Regions from separate parts of the Homo sapiens genome. Here region 1 is linked to region 2. Evidence: fine-mapped expression QTL. A gene starts in region 2. The other region holds a variant in brackets. All regions are shown on one strand. Distances are between the middles of the regions. Region 1 holds the start of AS-PTPRE (lncRNA antisense to PTPRE protein-coding gene). Region 2 holds the start of PTPRE (protein tyrosine phosphatase receptor type E).

What was found.
Region 1: its variant is fine-mapped to the expression of PTPRE in monocytes (Quach 2016, PIP 0.95).

The regions. Positions count from the first base shown.
Region 1 is chr10:128,062,056-128,067,423 of GRCh38, reverse strand. It overlaps PTPRE (protein tyrosine phosphatase receptor type E), which reads right to left. Exons shown (of 21, transcript NM_006504.6): 10 at 4,244-4,341; 11 at 1,230-1,349. AS-PTPRE (lncRNA antisense to PTPRE protein-coding gene) reads left to right here and starts at 4,999. Exons shown (of 3, transcript NR_136150.1): 1 at 4,999-5,297. RefSeq lists enhancers at 3,318-3,916, 4,256-4,465, 4,876-4,925, 4,257-5,368. The variant C/A (reference allele first, on the strand shown) is at 2,996.
Region 2 is chr10:127,904,349-127,909,716 of GRCh38, reverse strand. PTPRE (protein tyrosine phosphatase receptor type E) reads right to left here and starts at 2,614. Exons shown (of 21, transcript NM_006504.6): 1 at 2,408-2,614. RefSeq lists a silencer at 2,651-2,770.

The DNA of each region.
Region 1 (5,368 bases), 160 kb before region 2:
ACGTGTGCACCCATGTGCGTGTATGTGTGTGTGCACATGTGTGAATGTGTGCATGTGTGCACGTGTGCGTGTGTGAATGTGTGTGGATGTATGTGTGTGCACATGTGTGAATGTGCATGTGTGCATCTGTGCGTGTGTGGGTGCGTGTGTGTGCACATGTATGCATGTGCATGAATGTGTGTGCGTGTGTGCATGTGTGTGCATGTGAATGTGTGTGGGTGTATGTGTGTGCACATGTGTGAATGTGTGCATGTGTGCATGTGAGTGGGGTGTGTGTGCACATGTGTGTGTGAACGTGCATGCATTGTACGGTTGTGTGCGTGTGTGTGCATGTGTGTGCCTGTGTGTGGGTGTACGTGTGCATGTGCATGCATGTGTGTGGGAGTATGTGCATGTGCGTGCCTGTGTGTGGGTAGGTGTACGTGTGTGTGCCTGTGTGTGGGTGTGTGTGCATGTGTATGCCTGTGTGTGGGTGTATGTGCATGTGTGCATGTGTGTGCCTGTGTGTGGGAGTATGTGTGTGCGTGTGCATGTGAGTGCCTGTGTGCGCCTGTGTGCACATTTCTGGGAGAGATGCCAGCAGGGGATAGGATAAGAATAATCAGCTCATCCTTTTCCTTTTTTGCTGTGGCTTCTTGGAACCTCAGACACTTATTTTGTGACCTAATTATGCCAATGACTGTATCTTTAAATCCTGACAAAATGGTCTTCTGTCTTTTCTCTATGGTTTTAAACTTTCTTCTATATCTTGATTTCATCTGCTTTGCATACACATATTTTTACTGATCTCTCTCTTAAACCTTTTGGGGTGGTGGAACTAGCAGAACCCAAGTGTGGAAAATAACGAGGAGGTTTCAGACAGAATTCGGAAAGTGTTAGAAAAAAACCCCACCTCCCAGTCAGTGTGTGAAATGTCACTGTGCTACTGAGGGAGGACCTCACCCCCAGGCCCCTCCAATGACTGGTCTTCCTCCTGGAGAGGCCCAGAGGAGTCACTAGGAATTAGGAGCCCCCAGCACTGCCTGCAGACCCTTGTGCACCGGCCTCTGGTGTCTTGGCCCTCTTGCATGTCTGCCTATCACAGCCTGGCCACTGCACCCTCTCAGCCAGGGCTGCGACAGTGCCGGGCTGGGAGCAAAGCACTTCATAAATGCAGAAGGATGTTAACTCTGGGCATGATGCTCTCTGAAAATGATCTTTCTGGAAGGGCAGCAACTAGAGATGCTTACTGGCTGTATGCAGAACTTCCGGATGGTGTAGTCGACCAAAACCACGCAGTCCTCCACGCACACCCGGATGTTTCCATAGGTCCAGCAGCCTTGGTCGGGCCAGTACTGATGGCACTTTTCCTGCACGGAACAATTTAATAGAAGCAAATAGATCTGTGGGTGCAATGCATCATGACATCCCCCCACCCAACTACAGAAGGCCTCACACACACCAGCTGGAGTCACACAGCTCCCACAGCTGAGAAACAAGTTCACGTGTGTCGACCTCTTGAATGGGGAAACTGAGGCTGCGTAACTGGTGAACAGCAGCCTTGAAACTATGACTAGGATGCCCCAAGGCTTTCTGATGTAGACAGCAACAATGTCTCATTTCTTCATTCATTCACGAATCCCATACATTTTATTAACTGACCATCAACCAGTTATGCTGAGCCTGTAGCCTTCAGAGCTGGGCACCTAACTCCAAGTGACCCTCAGGCTAGAGGGCAAGGACGGTGCTCCCCCCAGACATTTCCCACTGGATTCAGCAATTTGTGTTTTTCCTGCTCAGTTCACTAAGGACAAAGTTAATTTGCACCACTGCCAGTCTGCCATTCAAGAGTGATGAACCTATGATTGGTCTAACGATCTTCATTTTTCTCTAGCAGGGACGAGGCTGCCGTGGAGTCTGCAGAAGAGGGTGCATTGCTACAGACAGGCCCATTTCTTTACCTTCCCGACCTCTGAAGCAAGAATGACCCAAAATACACGTTCCAGGAGCCCTTTCATTTTGCAGCACCGCCCGCAGCACCTGCCCGGTGGTGTCCTCCATCACTTCGCGAGTGAATGAGGACCCACCTCAAGGGGGAAAAGATCTACTTCATCTGCCAGAGAAACATGTCTGGAATGGAACAAGCCTGCCAGTAGTCAGAGAGTATATCCAGGGAATGGCCCCTGAGCAGCACAGCTCGTGGTCAAGCCTCCAGGATTAACAGTCTTATGAAACAAACAGCATCTGGTATTTAGTAGAGAGCAGCATCATTGTGTTATGACGGCTACCGACAACTTCCCCCTCCTTACACCTGGCTCCGGGCGGGGCTGCGGGGCTGTGGGTCACAGGCCATCTCTGATGCAGCCCAGGGGAATTGCAAATGCCTACATGTCCCGGTTTGGGTGAGTCTTGGCCCTATGGGGAGCCCTGGGGTCCCTCCTGAGCTTCTCACCTTGAAGGCTCTCCAGTAGGAACTGAGAACATGTGTCAGCCTCTCAAGGGCTCAGTGTTGGTGGCTGGTTTTATACCCCCTCCCTCTGCCTCCCTCCCACCCGATCATGAGATGCCAGGGCAGCTGTGTTTTGCAATGCAGAGCCCAGGATGTGGAAGCCAAGGAAACCACAACAGAAGTGTGAGCAATTAAGAAAAAGGGAACTCTATTGAGAAATGATTTCATCTGAATTGGTGAGAATGAGGACGCGGCAGCAGCCCAGCACTGAGTCACAGGAGTGGAAAAATCCAGTAGGAGGTTGTGGGGGAAGATGGAGAGAAAATGCCAGTGACACTTTCAGCAGAATGACTGAAAGAGGGAAGTGAGGGCGTCCTTGAGCCCCACTGCTTCTGTGCTGGTCTCATGCTTGGAGCACCAACCCCAGGAAGACTGGTCCCTATGGGCCATGGGTCACGGGGGACCCTGAGGCTCCTGATGAAGGGTCAGCCTCCTTTTCCCTCGCGTGGGTGTCCTCCTCCATGGCCGCTACAGCGCAGGCAGAGTGAAGAGTCCTGGGCTGGGAAT[C/A]CCCTACTTCCCTCTGTCACTCTTCCCTCTTCCCCATGACAAAGCATGACAAGGGCAAGATTTGCAAGGGCAAAGGGGTGGCCCTCCACAGTCCTGTTTCAGCTCCCCCCAGAGCAGAATGAAAGCCTCCATCCTATTCCTGACCAGAAACGGTGGCTGGAGGCTGCTTCCTGTGTTTTGGGTGGCAATTAGTAAGCTGGCACTGCGGGGACCAGAGCACCTCCCAGCCTGCCCTTCCTGTGGGCTCCTGCCACCCATCTTCTGCCCCAGCTGAGCTCCCCAAGGCCTGGTACTCCCATCTAAAAATGGCAGCCCTTCCCCACAGTCCTCGCTACAATGCCTGGGAACTGCTGGGGCCAGGCCAGCAGATGACTGAGGAGCTCAGGACACAGCAGGCCCTGAGCAGGGCCGGGCAGGACACACGGCTCCCACTGAACCGGGCCTTCATGCCAGAACACGCCAGAAGCACAGCCTCCTAACTTCGCCCCACCTGTGGTAAGTGTCCCTCAGGCTCCCAGTTCTTCTTTCATTCTGGAGAGTGAGCTCACTGCCTATGGCATGGCTCCCTGCCTGTCACTCAACCCCACCCCCGCACCCAGGCTCCCCACAGCCACCACTTCTCAGCCCTGAATTTGAGCCCCTACTCCTTGCACCTGGGACAGAGCTGGCCCAGCACAGCAGATGCTAATGAGTACTTGTTACATTAGGAAACGAATCAGTTCAACTTTTCTTCTTTGTCAATGATTCAAATTCTTATAACGTACATGCATCCTTTTTTGAATTAGAAACAGCTAATTAAATATATTCGGATGACAAATCAACATTTCTTCAATATACCAACGTTTTCCAAAAGCATTTCTCTAGTCTGGATAATAAGCGCGAAATCATGTTCATTTCTAGCCTGAGCTCTGCCGCATGACACGCTCAACATCCTAAAACTCTAAGATTCATGTCTCTCATCAGGCAGGCAGAGCCATGGGGCCAGCCGGGGGCCACTCTTACTTGGGAAAAAAAGGAAACTCTTGTGTCATTGTGTTATCACAGATTAGATAACAGTGAGATGCTGGGGACACAGGGGATTTGTTTCGTGAAGAAAATGCTGTAAGCCACTGCATGTGTTTGGGTTTTTTTCTGCAGTGATAGTGGGAGGAAGGGAGGGAAGTAGGAAAAGGAAGTGGTAAGAACATCCCCAGCCCGGCAGCAGCAGCTGAAAGGAAGTGATACCGGGGCCAGATGCCTGGAACTCACCTCTTTCCTTTCTTTCAAGTTTGTTAACATGACGATGGTCGCAGACTTTTGCTCCCAGACCATTCTCCAGAAGTCGTTAACCGTTTCCTGTTTGGGACCTGTGTGTAGAGGACAATTTCGAAGTCAAAAGGCATGAAGGGAAGTCCCTTTGGGGTCCCAGCCCCGGCACCCTGGCCGTTGGCCCCTGGACAGCTGTTCACTCCCTTCTCAGGCTTGTTGGGGACACACACGTCATGCCCTGAAGCGTTCCGGAACCGGTAGGGGCTGCCTGTCCTGCCACTCACCCACTCCAGCTAGGAACTCCTCAGTGGGCAAGATAATTGGGCCCAGGTTGAGTTATGACGTTCACAGGTAAGAAGCAGGGTTCAGATGAGGGCTGGGTCTACAGCCAAGTGTGGGAGAGCTGGTGAAAGCCTTGCGAGAGGCAGAGACTGGCCAGCCTCACCCTGCATTCCCAATCCCCTCCTCTTTGTCAAAATCTTACTCTCAGCATGGTGCTGTCCAATACGATATGAGCTAAAGTCCCTCGGGAGGGGGATGTGAACAACAGACAAAGTGTCACTAGGAGAAAGTCCTCTGCCCCTATCCACTTCCTGTCTGAGCTGCGGCTATTTTGCAGTCCCGAGCTAAGTGCTACGTGCTGAGGGGGATGGGCGGGGAGATAAGGAAGCCCCTGGCCCTGCTGCTGTCCTGCCGTGGGCTAGCTCCCTGTGGGTGTCTGCTGGCAAGAGAGAAACACATGCTTTCATCTGCTTCAGCCAGGATCGTCAGGTTTCCTGAGGTTTCCAGCTGGGCACATTCCTGATGGCCTCTGCGTGTGCACATGTGTGTCCTTTTTTCTTAGAGATTCTGCATTTGTAACAACTTCCCAGGTGATTTTGATGGACGCTGACTTTCAGAGCTCATTGCCCTAAAGACTCCTGGCCTAAGAGTGAGGAAGTCTGAGGAATCTGGTTTCAGCTCCACTGATATCTAACCGCACGTACACCAGGTCCTGCAGATGACAACCTCTGGTGGAACGGAGTGATGCTGGATTCAGTACTCAACACACAAGGTAGCCCTGTGCAAGGTGAAGGGCACGTTTTCACAGCTGAAGTATATTCTTAGTTATGGCCTTGATCTGAA
Region 2 (5,368 bases):
GCTGGGCACTGGAGATACAGTATTGCCCTCTCTTCACAGAAACTATAGTCTGGCATACATTTCAGAAGCAACATGGAGGCTGGTGGAATTGGATGGATAAAGACAACACTGGGAAAGTACTGGAAGGGGAGGGGAGATCACAAGTTTGATTTTGACGCATTGAGTCAAGGGGCATTTGATATCCCAGGGAGAAATGTCAAGTGGGCAGCTGCGGAGGAGAACTACAGAGGAGTGGCCGGGCCTAGAAACACACCTCTGGCCTTCAGGGAGGGAATATTGATCAGCGGTGCACCTTAGACTAGGCTAATGGTGGTGCAGATGGAGCACAGTGGACCCACTGAGGCACAGCTGGGAGAAGCATACTTTCACCAGTTGAAACTGATGCATCTACCATCACCCCCACTGTGAATGCATCTTCTCTTGGGGTTTGGGGGCAAGATTTGCACACACAGCCACCTCTCTTCTCAGGGGCAAGGATGTACACACACAGCCGCATCTACTCTCAGGGGCAATGGTTTGCACACACGCATCCCTGGAGAAGAGGGGGCTCCCATCAGGGCACAGTGCTTCAGGACCTCCTCCAGGCTTCCGTGGAGGTGGCGGTGCTGACACAGGGAGCGCATCTCTCTCTGCCAGCTGTCCCCCACAGAAATGAGAGGTGGCCTCTGTGTGACTTTCCGCATTGTCCTCACTTTGTGTCCACACAGGGCCTCCAAGAAGCATCACACGTAAAGACAATAACACCCTCATCGACTTCCCTCAACTGGTTTGACTGGAACTGATGAGGGAGTGTGTGACTAAGTCCCAAGCCATCTGGACACATCCAGTGACCTGACCTTTTACAGAGACAAATCTAGCTCCTAGCTCTTGTCCACATGGGAACGGTCTGTTGGGGCAGGGAGGGGGCGGTGGTGACTCACAGGCATCACCAACATCAATGAACAAAAATCTTGGCCCCCAAGGTCAGATTCAGGGGCAGAGCCTTGTCTGGGAAGGGCTGGGTGGTACGTCAGGCCTCTCTCACTGACAGCGCAGCCCCCACCTCTTGGGCCTGCTCCACCTCGCCTCTGACCTTTTGCTCCCCAAATGCCAAGAGCCTGTGCTTGGAAAGTACAGACCCTAACCCTGTTCACACCACAGAGCTCTGCCCATACCATGCTGGCTGAGTGACCGTGGTGGTCAGACGCTTGCCCCAGCCACTGGCCCCCACCATTTCATGCCCTCCTCTGGCCATTATCCCAGTTTTGGAAACGACCCTCCACACCCCCCCTCCCCACCCACATACACACAGTTTAAATGGACAAGAGTCGTTAGTGTGCAGAGGCAGAACTTCATCCATCTTTGGGACACAAAGACCTCCAGACGCCCTGGGTCAAGGGGTACCTGGGGCCAAATGCAGAGCTGACTGGACATGGACACAGTAATTTCTGTATCACGTGATCACTCTTTGCTGGTGTTCATTCAACTCACCTATACGCTCATTCACTCTAAAATACAAGCAGAGAGCTGTATTCTTTCTTTGAGTTTCCTGGATTGAAACTCTGATGGAATGGTCACGACTCAAGACAAACCAATATCATAATTCTGCAAGTATAATTGCCTAATCTTTCTGGAAAGGTTTGCATGCCTGGAAGGAATTTAGGTCAGGTCCAGCGCGGTCTCCATCCGGCTTGGCTCTGCCTCCCCATCCTGTGGGTTGCCCGGCCTTCCCCAGATGGTCCCGGGAGCTCTCAGAATTGGCACCGCGCTCGCATCTGTGCTCAGGAGCCCTGTGAGGTCGTCGACCCTGCAAATCGCGGCAGTCCAGCCTGGACCACCTGCCAGGGTCTCCCTGCCGCATCTCCGACCCCCGGCGGCTGCTGCATCCCGCTCCACCTGCCTCCCTGGGAAGGCGCGGGCGCCCGCCCGGCTGCGGGGCAGCATCCTGGCAGAGCGCCGGCCCCTCCCAGAGTTGGCACAACTCGAGCCACTTTCTTCAAAGGCTCCAGCCTCCAGCCTCGAGTGGGCGCAGCCCCCCACGCGCGGCCTGCACCCCCTCTCTGTGTCGCCCGCTTTCACGTACGCCGCCCTGCCGCCGGCCCCCGCGCACTGTAGCCACCCGCAGACACGCGCGCCCTCCTCCTGTTTACCGAGAGGGAGCGTGAGCACTGCCACTGTGGTCGCCAAGTTGGGCTGGGGACTCCGGGTGAGGGGACGCGCCACAGGCCGGGGTCGGGGGTCGTACGGGCCCCAGCCGCTGGTACTGGGCGCGCCGCGGGGGCGGCGGGGCCGGGGTCCGGACTCTGAGCCCCGGAGCGGCCCCTCCCTCCCGCGGCAGCGGCCGAGGCAGCGCCCCGGCCTGCTTGGGCCTCCCGGGGTGCACAGTTCCCCACAGGGGCGCAGGGTCCCTGTCCGCACGCGCGCTCACCTCGGGGGGGCCGGTCTGGTCGCGCAGATCGCGCTGCAGCGGAGGCTCCGCATCTCCCGGGCGCCTGCCCGCCGCCCTCCGGGGCGCCCGGCTGTCTTCGCCGGGCGCGAAGAAGGGTCGCGGGGACGCGCAGAGGCCGTGGGTTCCTGAAGCCGCTCGCGCCGGCTCCTGCCGCCCGCTGTCCGCAGCCTAGCAGGAAATTTGTCCGGCCGGCCGCGTCCCGCCGCCGCCTCGGCTCCAGCTCCGGCTGTGGCTCCGCGGCGGGGGCGGGGGCCTGGGCGCTGCGAGGAGCGGGGGCGACGCCTGGTGCCCGGCGCGGGGAGCGCATCCAGGGCGCCCGCCCCACCTGCGAGGCGGGTATGGCCCTGAGGCCCTGCGGCCCTGCCCTGGGAGCACCCAGACACTGTGGGCATCCGTTTACTCAAGGCTGGTGCCCCTTCCGGGGAGGCCTGGTCCAGCCACTCCGCCGGGACCCAGGTGCGTAGACAGAGGGTCAGGGTATGGCAGGCACTCACACCTGGTGGAGAGCAAAGGCAAGGCCCTGCCTCTCCCTGCCCTATCCCTGTGCACCAGGAAGTGGCCTGACTAGGGACTCGCCCTGGTCTTGCAGCAGGTGTGGGACACGCAGGGCACCCCGTGCGCTTCTGGTGCGAGGAAGCTGGGAGAGCTGTGAGGTCGCTGGGCCTGGTGGCCTCCTCTGGAAAGAGGAGGGGATAAGGCGCCTGTCTGGGGGATGTAGAAGAGGGCTCGCTTGTCCCGAAGGCAGTATCTGTCAAAGTTAAAAACGCACAAAGAGAAAGAAGAGCGACAGAGCCAGGCACTGGGCCTGCTGTCTAGCCGACTTCTTCCAGGGAATTTCACTCAAGCTATTTAGGGAGCTTTCAGAGAAAAGGCAGTTCCCTGGAAGGAGCAGAAAAGACACTGGTGGCATGTTGGTTCTGAACCTTTGTGCCGTGCCCTCTGGATGGGGCCACGGCCCAGCCCTCATGAGGGAAGCTGCATTCTGTGGTAGGGACCCAGCTCATTAGGCTTATGAATGAATGAATGGATGGGGAGAAAGTGGCACTTACGGTGTGTTACCCCACGTTGCACCGATTGCCAGCCGACGACTCTTAGCATACTTAAGGCCTGTTTAGACAGAGCTACGGACCCCAAAGGCTGCAGAGCAATGGGTGCCTCCTGGCAGAGGCCACCCCCACGTGATTTGCCCAGAGTGGGACTTCCCCTCCACAGGGGCCGGAGAGCTGCGAAACCAGTGGAGAACTTGAGCTCCACCTCCCTGCCCTGCCCTGCCCATTTCTGTCCCTGGGGGCCTTGTCTAGCCCCAAAGCTTTAAACACCATCCGTATGGGAATGACTCTAAGCAGCACCACTCTGGGGCCCTCTCCTCCAAGCTCAGCTCCTCCTGGCTGTCTCCTGCTGTCTCAGACCTGCCTCTTGCTCTTACTTAGTTTCTCTGCAGTCGTCCCTGTCCCTGCCTCCGTGTCCCACCTCAAGTCCACCTCCCAGAGGGCCCAAGTCCACTTCCCACTGGCTTCTCCATGCATCTTGCCCTTTCATCTCACTGCCTGCGCCCCTCCAAAACCTGCAGTGGCTCCCCAGCTTCTGACCCACTCTCCCAGATGATCCATTCTTCACACTTGGTCCCAGGCACCTCACAAAGTGTAAACCGGGTCCTGCTAGCCCCCTGCTTAAAAGCCTCCAGGAATATTAAAACCCAAACTCCCACGAGGCTCTGCCTGACTTCCCTGGCTGCTCTGAGCCTCTCACCCCTGCCCGCTGGGCTCCAATCACGGCTCCTTTCTCTCAGTGCCAGAGCCAAGCTCCTTCCTGCCTGGGACTCCTCCAACCAGTGCACCTGGTTCCTTCTTACTGGTGGCTTCTGGAAGATCGCCCTGCATCCATCTCTTCTGCCACTCTCTTCCACATCCTCCATCACAGTTTGGAATTATTTGTGGGTTTATTGGCTCCTTTTGTGTCTGTCGTGCCCTCTTCCCCTACCCCCAGGGCTGTAAGCTCCAGCAGCCTAGGCTCTGTTGATCTCCATGGCTTCTCAGACTCAAGCTCCTAAAGCAACGTCAGTAGCCAGGAGGTGCTCAGTGAAGGCGTCTGGGCTGTCAGAGCAGAGGAGGATGGGCCCCAGCCAGCAGCAGCAGACAGCCTGGTCACCTCGGAGCCCAGCAGGGCGGGTGGCTCCCTCCTGAGTGCACCTCCAAGGAACAGCCCAGGTTGAGGTGGGGCCAGGTAGCACATGACGTCACCAGGCTTTGGATTTTTCTGCTGTTGTGGTCTACAGAGTCAGGCTTATGTACATGAAGGCCATAATTACAAAGCTCTGCTAAGCACAGTTTTGCTTGTTAACGCTGCAGGGCTGAGGAGGCAGAGACTGTGAGCTAAGAAGACAGAAACAACTTGCCTTTGTCAGACATCTGCTATTGGAAAGTGAACAGCCTTGGTAACATGATGGGGAGGCAGATGGCTCTTCTTTCCTCATAATATCTTCTCTGCTGGACCCCAAAAATTCTCAACCCTTTCTAAAGTCTACAGACATTCATCATTGTCACACAGAAGCGTGTTGTCAGAAGTGTTTGTGCCAGGGCCCTGTTGATTACCACAGGGAAGCCCTTCATCCTTCTTCACCATCTTCATTTTTGCCTCTCATAGGCTCAAGGTCCCTATTGACATCAGAGTCAATTCCCCTATCCTCCTCCCAGGCTTTGAGGAGCTCCTCTGCCTCTTGCCCTCCTGAACACCTCACCACTCCTCTTTTAGGGCCCTTCTTGAGTCCACAGAGTCCTCTTCAGCTCCCTGGCACACTGGCTGTCTGATCCTGTCTCAGGCCTGTCCGTGGCTGGCCTCCTGCCCGCTCTCCCCAGGCCTCCCCTACACCCAACCATTTAGCCCCTTCCCTCTAAAACACAGCTTGAGGCAGTGCTCCTGCGATTATTGATATTAACTGCA